2 separate regions of the Homo sapiens genome follow, and region 2 is linked to region 1. The links come from fine-mapping of genetic effects on gene expression. Tissue or cell type: cerebellum. Region 1 holds a variant in brackets; the other region holds the start of a gene. All regions are shown on one strand. Distances are between the middles of the regions.

Region 1 (5,232 bases):
CTGCTTGTATAGATGACTTAGATGTGACTAGTGTACATTTTATTAGTCGGTTGCCATGTTTTTAAAAATAAATTCTCTGTTCTCATCTTAAATAAATGAGGTGTTAGTAATTTTTAAGTAAGAAAATGTCTTCTTATTTTCAAAATTAATTTTTAAAACCTAAAAATTGTTTTAAATTATAAAATAATACATGTTTATTATAGTGGAATGAAAGCATAAAAATCAGAAATAAACCTATATTACCAATTCTCCTTCCCACCCAGAAACTTATAACATTTCATTTTGTATATTCATCCAATTTATTTTTATAGATAAGAATCTTTTTATTTACAAAATTGGGTTATCTGTTTTATCATCTGCTTTTTAAAAAATAATTTTCTTGTCTTATGCATGTTTCCAAGTAATTGATAATCCTTAGATAAAGAGGGTATTGTTTTTATGGCTGTATTCTAGTCTATTTTAAAGATGTAATTTATTAAACATTTACTTTTGAACATTTCCTGCATATGTATTTAGAAAATGGTTCATTCCATGGAAATTTCTGGGCGTAAGGGAATGTACGTTTTAAGACTTGCTGAACCTGATTAAAATGCCTTTGAGCATTTTGAGGAAGAATTACTTTTAGATCATATTATTAGCAAGGTCTGATATTCCATGTTTTGATTTTAATAGATTTTATATTTATATTTTATATAGTCTTGATTATATTTCATTGCAGAAATTTAAATTTTATGTATCATGTTCTGAAGGATAGTTTTAAAAATAAATTGGATCTTTATCAGGTTAATTGGCAACAAGAAAGGTTTCAAGAGATTACTGGAAAACTTGGGCACTTTCTTAAGCAAGCAGGTTTTAAGGTAAGATCATTTTAGATTTATTTGTTATTACTTTCCTTAAGTCATCTTACTGGTATGAGAGGAAAAACTAATACTTTGATATTCTTATTAAATTTATTTAATTCTCTTTGCTTTATTTTCTCTTGAGTATCATATATATAATATATTCTTTGGATTATTTCAACTTAGAAAATTGCATATGTTTAATATTTGGGTTGGTTTTTATGTAAGCAAAATACTTTTTTACCCTACCTATTAAATTAGATGGTATAGGTTTAGGGAGGTCATAGAGGAGTGTGGAAACTGATAGGGAAGAATTTGTCCAGCAAGCATCTGTAGTATGCCTTTGTTACCAAATGCTTGAATGTTTTGGAATAAATTTGCAAGTTTCCCAATCAAAAAAGTTGAAAATTATTGGATCAGATAACTTTGGGGCTGTAGTTCTGTGATTTCTATTATGTTTTAAAAAGTACATTGTTGCTTTTGCAAACTTGGTGCAGTTATGGTAATGGTGAATCTTTTAATGTTTTAAAAAATGTTGTATTAAGTTTCATAAGTCAATCTTTTTAATAGGAGAGTGATGTAGGTTTTATTCCTACAAGTGGTCTCAGTGGTGAAAATCTAATCACAAGATCTCAGTCAAGTGAACTCACAAAATGGTATAAAGGACTATGTTTATTAGAACAAATTGGTAAGTATACTGCCATTCTAGCTTTAATGCATTATAAACTTGGTATTAATTATTATTTAGAGTTCTTTATGGGAGAGAGTCACACGTATGAAAAAGCATAGGATTTGTAGTCGGAGGAACTAAGTTACCTGTTTTGTCATCATGTGCAATACTTAACCTGTCTAGTGCTCAGTTTTCCTCAGTTTATGAGGCTAGTGCCTGGTTTACATATCTTATAGACTGTTGTTAAAATTAAATGAGATTAACATTCATTTTATAAGCTGCAACTATTACTTGGTTGAATGTCCCTTATCCGAAATGCTTGGGACCCAAAGTGTTTGGGGTCTGAAATTTTTTTTTTGGATTTTGGAATATTTACATTATACTTATTAGTTGAACAGCCCAAATTCAGAAATCTGAAATCCAAAATGCTCCAATGAGCATTTCCTTTGAGCATTATATCAGTGCTCAAAAAGTTTCAGATTTTGGAGCATTTCAGATTTCAGAATTTTGGATTTGGGATGCTCAATGTGTATATTAGTGACAGTTAAGTTGCTATTAGTAATTATAAAAAGTAGTTATTTTCTAGGAGAAGTGGGATTATAATGAGTTTATTGAAGTGAGTCAAAAATTTAATTTTAAATTAAACCTTGCCTTTTGCAATTTCTTTTTTCCAGATTCCTTTAAGCCTCCCCAGCGATCTATTGACAAACCTTTTAGATTATGTGTGTCCGATGTTTTCAAAGGTAAGTGCTACCTTTGTAGTGCTTCTTCAGTATAGCCCCTTTTCCCCATTCCCTCCTAACCTCCTTTCCTGGACTAAGTTATGACAGTATATTGCCTTCAGAGTCTCTCCTCTCCATGCCCAAGTAAGGATCACTGTCAGATTAATCTTAAAATGCACAGATTTAGTCACTTAGCTTCCCTGTCCAGGAAAACCTTCAGTTTACTCACCATTTCTCATCTTTCAAGCATAAGAAAACCTTGCCTTTTGTCTTTCTAACTTTATAGTTTTTTTTTCTCCCATTAGATTCCTTTAGTTTTCAAATCCTTCAACCAAACTGGATTGTTTATTGTTTCTTAACCACACAGGATGTGTTTATTGCCACATGTCTACCCGTGCTTCCCTGTTGTATTGTTCTTTCTCTTTACTTGTCCATTTCCTCCCCATCTGTAACAGTCTGGGTCCAGTTAGGAGTTAGATACCATACATAGGTGAAATGGGAAATGTAATATAAAGAATTATTAACTATGATAAAAATGCAACTAAAAGATATACAGAAACTTTATAGATAGGGCTGAGGAAGGACCAACGTAGAAGAGGTTCAGAGCTTGCTGGAAGAGATGATATATTAAATACCTAAGAATATATCTAACTTAATAAGGGCAAGATCCTATATAGAAGACTATAAAGTGGAAATACAATTTAAAAACTCAATAAATAAAAGGATATAAGATTTATTATTACAATAATAAAAACTGTAAGGATGTCATTTGTCCTCTAAATCTCCATTGTCACAGAGCCAGCAATGCAGAGTGAATGTGGAACTGAGCAGCAGTAAATTGGTAAC[C/T]GGCGTGCTTACCTGCGCACATGCCCTGACGCGTCCCTCTGTATTCTCTGTATCCTCTGTCATTGTGCTTTCATGCAGCATTATAATTTTTTCTATGCTGTCTGTTTATCCCACTTAGATTATGAACTCCTTGAAGGCAAGTACTATCTCTTCTTTATCTATATCTGCGGCCCTAGCCCAGTGCCTGGCACATAATACATTTAACACATGAATAAAAAAATGAATGAATGAAGGTGCTTTGAAAAAATCATGCAATGAAATCAAAATTTATCATTATCATTATTAGCTTCCAGTGTTCTAGTAATAGAGGAAATATGCTAATAGTTTCCAAGATGCCCATTGTTTATCAAGAATACAAGAGGTGGTTACTTTTCTTTGATTAACAGTGTTTGCTGACTGTACTTTCTCACCTTCTGTTCCCCCTTCAGGCTGCTTCCTGGCTTCCGCCTACGCTGCTCTCCTGAGTGTGTTCCTCCTGAGGTCATGAAATGACCTCTTGGTTGCCAAAGTCAATATACACTTTCAATTCTATCTTACTTGAATTTGGCATTGGTTCTGATGCTGGTAGCCACATCCACCTTGAAACTCCTCCCTTGGTTTCTGTGACCTGCTTTCTCCTGTTAACCTGTCTATTTCTCTGACCTGTCTATCTCTGACCTCTCTATATCTTCTCTATGGGCTCCTCATTCTCTGTCTTTTAAACAGTGTTCTGCTGCCTCAGTCCTCTTCTTAGTCTTCAAGTTCCTTTTGAACTGACATCCATGAGTGTCTCTACCTTCTGCATCTTGATGCTTCCCAAATCTGTATCTCCAACCCAAACCTTTTCACTCATTCTCCACACACTTGTCTAAGCACTACTGGACATCTCTCCTGGGAGAGTGTTCTTTTAGGGGTACCATTCTCATGGAATGTGGTGTGATTGGTCCCCCCGGAATGCAACTTCTGCATGTGTGTGTCTCATAGACACTTCAGATTTACCAAGCCTAAAATGGATCTTGTCCTTAGTTTCATATCTCACAGTTAATGCATCATCATCTCACATTTTCCCCTTTCTGTCATTAGTCTTCACTTTCCTTACCACTCCAAACTTGTTATTCCTTATTCCCGAATTCTTGAGTTTATTCCCTTTCTGTAGTAAGTTTGTGCATTTGTATCAGCCTCTACTCTAAGACAGAAATACCATCACCTTACTTCTCCGGTCACAATATTTACTGGCTTCCTATTACTTAACTGCAGGATGAAATTTAAACCCTAAGCGTGATTTATGAGACCCCTTTATTATTTCTCCCTTGCCTATCTCTGTTGCCTCCTGTCTTACCTTTTCTTCATTATTCTATATGGTCCCCTCCCCATGGCCCCCACAAGTGACACATGACTCTTAGCCCATCCCACATTTGGTTATGCCTTTGCCCACACAGTTTCCTGGGGCAGCAGTGTCTTCCTTTTTCTCCCTACTCATGCATACAAGCTACCTAATAAACACTTATTCCTTCTTCAGAGTGCCAGATGTCTATTCTCACCATCATGGATTCTTTGGTGCACCTTTGTGTTTCTATTGTATATTTTACATATTATTTGTCTCAGGACAATGTAATTGTTTCCATCTTTCTCTTCACTAGTATAATATCTTTATGGGCAGGGACTTACATTTTTATTTTTTTTTATCCCCAGAGTTTAGTATAATATCTGGTACTACGTATTTATTATTTCTCAATAAATATTTGAGAAAGGAATGAACCTTTCTTTGGTAATATGAGTATTTTTATTTGCAAAAAAAAAAAGTAAAGTGTGGTATGCCATATTTAGTAGAGATGTTAATTCTGAAATGATTATTATTTAATGTCCATTGAACTACTAGTTTTATATGACTACTTGAGAACTAAGTATAGTTAACGGTATTAATCATCAGATAACATTGCTGTATGAACCATAAGATTTTGGTATGTTTTGCAGATCAAGGATCTGGATTTTGCATAACTGGTAAAATAGAAGCTGGTTATATCCAAACTGGTGACCGACTACTGGCAATGCCTCCTAATGAAACTTGTACCGTGAAAGGTATTTATCTGCAAGATGCTTTTGCTAAACAAGCCTTAAGTTGAGACAGCAGATTTTTAAAAAGTGGTTTAGTTACAACTCCAAAGTAAGTAACCTC
Region 2 (5,232 bases), 70 kb before region 1:
TATAAAGGTACTTCAGGAAAATTTTGAAAGTCTGGATATGTTCATTATCTTGATGGGGTTGATGGCTTCACTGGTGTATACATACGTCAAAATGTATCAAAATTACACATTATGTGCAGTTTATTGTCAATGATATCTCAATAAAGTTGTTAACATTTTTTCAGTAATGTAGTTATCCTTTCATTCATAATTTTTTTCACAAATCAATATAAAATGATTTGTATTGTTTTTTATGACATTAACAATTCCATAGCAAGAGAAATGTCATTTTATTTCTCTTCTTTTACTCATTAATTCATTCAGCAAACATTTAAAGTGCCAGACATTAGGGTGCCGGAGAAACAAAGATAAAGCTTTGAAATTAGTAGGGGTAGAGAAGTGGCATTTACTGAGTACCCATTCTGCAACACCTACTGTTTTTACATATATCATTTACTTTTCACAAAACAGAAGACATACATTTTCATATATTCGATTTTACAGATGAAGACATTAAATCTGAAGTGGTTAACAGCAACAAAACTGGGACTGAAATCCAGGTTCGTGGTACTCCGAAGTCATAGTACTTTCCATCAAAACACAATACCAGAGTTTTATTCATTTATTTTTTGAGTCGGAGTTTTGCCCTTGTTGTCCAGGCTGGAGTGCAGTGGCACGATCTCAGCTCACTGCAACTCCTGCCTCCTGGGTTCAAGCGATTCTCCTGCCTCAGCCTCCCGAGTAGCTGGGATTACAGTCACCCACCACCACGCACAGCTAATTTTTTTTTATTTTTAGTGGAAGATGGGGGTTTCACCATGGTGGCCAGGCTGGTCTGGAACTCTTGACCTCAGGTGATCCACCCGCCTCAGCGTCCCAAAGTGCTGGGATTACAGGCGTGAGCCACGGTGCCCTGCCCACACCTTACAGAGTCCTGAGGGGAGTGGAACAATCCTAACTTTTTCTGAAGAAGTCAGTGAAGGCTTTGCCATTGAGGCTCTACTGTTTGAGATGCAGTAGATGCTGTGCAATATTTAGAGTTTTAAAGGAGTGCGTTATTGACGACCTAAGGGCAAATTATATATTATCTGACAGAAGTAACGTTTTCTTATTCATTGTTCCTGTAGTACTTTGCTTATGTGGTCTATAACTCATTCACTTCATACCTCAGTGAGTTGTAGTTAAGCTTGTAATTGACAATTACAGTGGAGTGGAAGCTGCCATTTGTATTTTAATAACACAATTTTTTTGGGGGGGTGCAGAGTCTCACTCTGTCTCCAGGCTGGAGTGCAGTGGCACAATCTTAGCTCACTGCAACCTCTGCCTCCCGGGTTCAAGCGATTCTCCTGCCTCAGCCTCCCGAGTAGCTAGGACTATAGGCACGCGCCACCATGCCTAGCTAATTTTTGTATTTTTAGTAGACAGGGAGTTTCACCATGTTGGCCAGAATGGTCTTGATCTCTTGACCTCATGATCCGCCTGCTTCAGCCTCCCAAAGTGTTGGGATCACAGGAGTCAGCCACCGCGCCCGGCCAATAACACAATATTTTTAAGCACCTACTATGATCTGTGATAAATCCTCTTATACGGATACATTATTCACAGCTCGCGAGTTAGTGTCTCTATCTCCTTTTTACAAAGAAACAGGCTGCAAAATAAAAATTACCTAAGGGTGTAAAATAATAAAAACACTTAAGCCATGTAACATTAGCAACTATCTCTATTTTTCTGTAAACTTTTATTTTGGAGCCACATTAAACAACTATTTTTGTAGTCAAACACATTCAAATGCATGAATAAATTACGTTCCAAGCCACTTACAAATATAAACTAAATTTGGATTACTCTTATTTCTTTCTATTGTGCATAGCAAAAAGCTGAGGAAGCTTTTAATTATCTCTAGAACTCAACATTTGCCTTTGATGTGAAGTATCATCATTTCAAAAACACAAGCTAAAACTGAAGTGGTGTTCAGTATAATGAGGTTGGTTTCTTATATAGCATTATTAACTTTATGTTCTGAGAAATGAGGACATTTAATAGCAGGTTATAGATTCATGCATCAACAACATTCAGCATTACCACCTAAGGCCAGTGCTATGTCTAAAAAGCTATATTTAATACTCGCAATGTTACACACAATTATGTCTTCAATGAATGTTCAGTGAATCCTTCTTTATGATGCTGATAAATATCGTCTATATAGCTAAAATCGTTTACATAGCTAAGGGCAAATCGCTGTTTACTAGGGATAGTAATGCCGAACGGAGTGAATACATGAAGTCGTAAATTATATGAATGCAGGGTGACCTAATATAGCCAGGGTCTCAATTTAATAATATATACCCGTTTAAAAATAGCCTTATTTCCTTCTCTAAAGCTTGGACTCTTTTTTTTTTTGAGATAAGGTCTCACTCACTTTGTCGCCCGGGCTGGAATGGAGAGGCCCGATCTCAGCTCACTGCAGCCTCGACCGCCTGGGCTCAGGGGATCCTCCCACCTCAGCCTCTTCAGTAGCTGGGACTACAGGTCTGCACCACAGGGCCGGCTAGTGTTTGTATTTTTTGTAGAGACGGAGCCTCGCTATGTTGCTCAGGCTGGTCTCGAACACCTGAGTTCAAGCGATCCGCCCTCCTAGGCTTCCCAAAGTGCTGGGATTACAGGAAGGAGCCACCGCACCGGCCTGGGCTAAATCTGATTCCAAGTTTACACAAGTTTGTTGAATGCCCACTGTGTGCTTAATGAAAGATCAAAGTTTGATAAAACAAGGTCCCTGCTCTTACTGAGCGCATAGCTTTCTCAGATTATCAGGAACCAAATTTGGAAAATAATCCAGAACGCTGGCGTAGGTAGCTCAAGGTTCCCCGCTTGCAACATTTAGTCCAAACCAGTCAATTCTAGGCGGCGGATTTCCCCATCCCCCTCCGTCGCCCAACCTTTGGGTGGGGCCACTCCCAAACGCTCCCTCCCCTCGTCCCGCCATGCACAGCAGTGCGCATGCGCCCTCAGGGAGGCGGACAGTGACCCTGAGGCATTGCCGTCGCGCGGTGCACAGCTAAGACGTCGCGCTTGCGCAGGCGCTCGGCGCAGAGGCCTGCGGGAAGCCAAGATGGCGCATAGGGGTTCTCCAGGCTGCAGTTGGCGCCTTATCAGTATCTAAGCGGAGTGTTTTGGAAGGAGTTAAGGGGCTGTGGCAAACGCCCTCTCCGCCGTCATGGCCCGGCATCGGAATGTTCGAGGCTATAACTACGATGAAGGTAGGTGGCAGGGTCATGCCGGGACGTTCTTTTCCCGGCTACAGCTGGGATCCTAGCCCGTTGGCATCCACTTCAATCTGTGAGTTTCTCGTCAGTGTTGCCCTGTCGGGATTGGGAGAGCCCCAGTTGGGGAATATAACAGGCCTTCTAGTGCTTTCAAATGCCGTCGTTTTTAAGTCATGATTTCTGCCCTCTGGGGTTGATTTTATTTGGGGAGGGGGAGGTGCTGCATAGCGTCATATGGGTAGGATATTGGTGAGGTTGAGATCCGGTGATATTTAGGCACGTAAGCATTATCACCTCTTCCATTGTTTCCTCCCATGTTGGGCACTAACGTGCCTGCTTCTAGCTCCTCTCTCCCAGATCCCCTTTGAGAAATGTCCATGAAACGTTGCTTATTTGTAAAACACAGATTGACTTAATACATTCAACGGACGTGTACCTGTGTTAGATTTACATGGTAAACCTTTTGTGTATGTCCATACATACCTAGTGCAGAATCAGTTTGCGCTAATTTATTTTTCAACGAATTTCAAAGTGGAAACTTAGGAGACGGTAGAAAAGACACATGTTAAAAAGGCCCAAAGAATGAGTCGATCAGATGGATCTTGAAGTTTATACTTAGTTCTTGGCTGGTAATGCTTGATATAAATGTATTTTGAAATGTAAATAAACGGCAGTACTAGAGGAAAGAGTGTATAGGAAAGGACTTTTTGATATTAAAAAATGAAATAAAAATGTCTGTATGAATGTTCTGTAGGAGTTAACAGGAGTTAGAATTATTTTTAGGAGGAGCACATCCCTCTTCATGCAGTAGATAACTATAGGCATCACCAAGCATCACATAAACTAAAAATATAAACAAAAATGAACTAATGCAGGAGAAGAATAAAGAACTATGCTTTACGAAGTGCAGAACATGTAGTGCTTAATATGTTGGTGATTGTCATTGGCACCCCAGTAGATTATTATAGAACATCAGTATGCTTTAACTAGAGTGAGGGCAGCTAACACCCTGTTCTCCATTTGGAACCTGTGACCTCAGTCCGTCTAGAACATGTGAATTTTCTGGTGGTTACTTTAGAATGGAGGCCCTTTTAAATAAATATTGCAGTGGATGGTATTGCATGTGGACCATTGTCACCTAAGAAATGACTTTAGATTGAGAGAGATTTTTGCAAATATAAAGTACATGAATAGGCCTATTTATTATTCATTCATTTCTTTAATAGTTGTTTATCATTTCCTCAACCACCATTAAGTTAGTGCTTAGAGTACTGTTCTAAGCTTTGAGGACTGAAAGTAAGATATTTGAGGGTGGTCTAAAAGGAGAAGATTATACGAGTTACAGATTATTAGAGTATGAAAAATGCTACAAAAGGTACTGAGAAAACGCTATGGGAGGGATACACAGATGAGAACACTTAATTCAGAATGGATTGGGGGGAATTTAAGCAGGATTTCTACGTTAAGGAATGCTTCATGGAGGAGAGGTGGTTGGCCTCAGGGAGCACCTTGGCTTCTTGAGGTTAGGTTGTCATGTTGTCATGCTTCTTTGAAACAATTGGTGACATCATAACCAAGCTGTTCCTGTAACATTAAGGAGGTTCATCCCCTTTTCTTGTTTATAAAAGTTGTACTCATTAAGGTCCAGTTTATTTCTCTTCTTCCCAGTTAGGCTTTCTCTTGAATTCTCAGAATAATAATTTAAAAATTCTGTTAAGAAATATAACCTCATTAGAGAGAGTTTGTGTTCTAAAACCTACTGGTTCCGCTACTTAACTCCCACTTTGTTTTTCTCTGTAATTTATGTAATACTTTACATGACTGCCTCAGTCACTGATTTAAAAGTCTCAGGAAGGCAAAATCCATACTTTAAGTAGCTGGCACAATGTTCTTTACATGTGGTAAATATTTCATAATTTTGTTGATTGAGGAAACAAACTATGAAGATTGCAGGAAAGAATTCTCTTCATCTTTATATGTTGTGGCACTT

The links. PIP is the estimated chance that this variant, and not a neighbour inherited with it, causes the effect.
Region 2: HBS1L starts here. The variant in region 1 is fine-mapped to the expression of HBS1L in cerebellum (GTEx, PIP above 0.99).

Annotation. Positions count from the first base shown.
Region 1 is chr6:134,982,361-134,987,592 of GRCh38, reverse strand. It overlaps HBS1L (HBS1 like translational GTPase), which reads left to right. Exons shown (of 18, transcript NM_006620.4): 10 at 783-857; 11 at 1,410-1,527; 12 at 2,184-2,252; 13 at 5,031-5,135. Among named protein-coding and RNA genes, the nearest start is that of MIR3662, 5.5 kb to the right of the region's middle. The variant C/T (reference allele first, on the strand shown) is at 3,078.
Region 2 is chr6:135,052,653-135,057,884 of GRCh38, reverse strand. HBS1L (HBS1 like translational GTPase) reads left to right here and starts at 3,063. Exons shown (of 18, transcript NM_006620.4): 1 at 3,063-3,236. The coding sequence starts at 3,194. LOC124901405 (a long non-coding RNA gene) reads right to left here and starts at 2,992. Exons shown (of 2, transcript XR_007059775.1): 1 at 2,399-2,992. It overlaps LOC124901406 (a long non-coding RNA gene), which reads left to right. Exons shown (of 2, transcript XR_007059776.1): 2 at 1-167. RefSeq lists an enhancer at 2,855-2,904.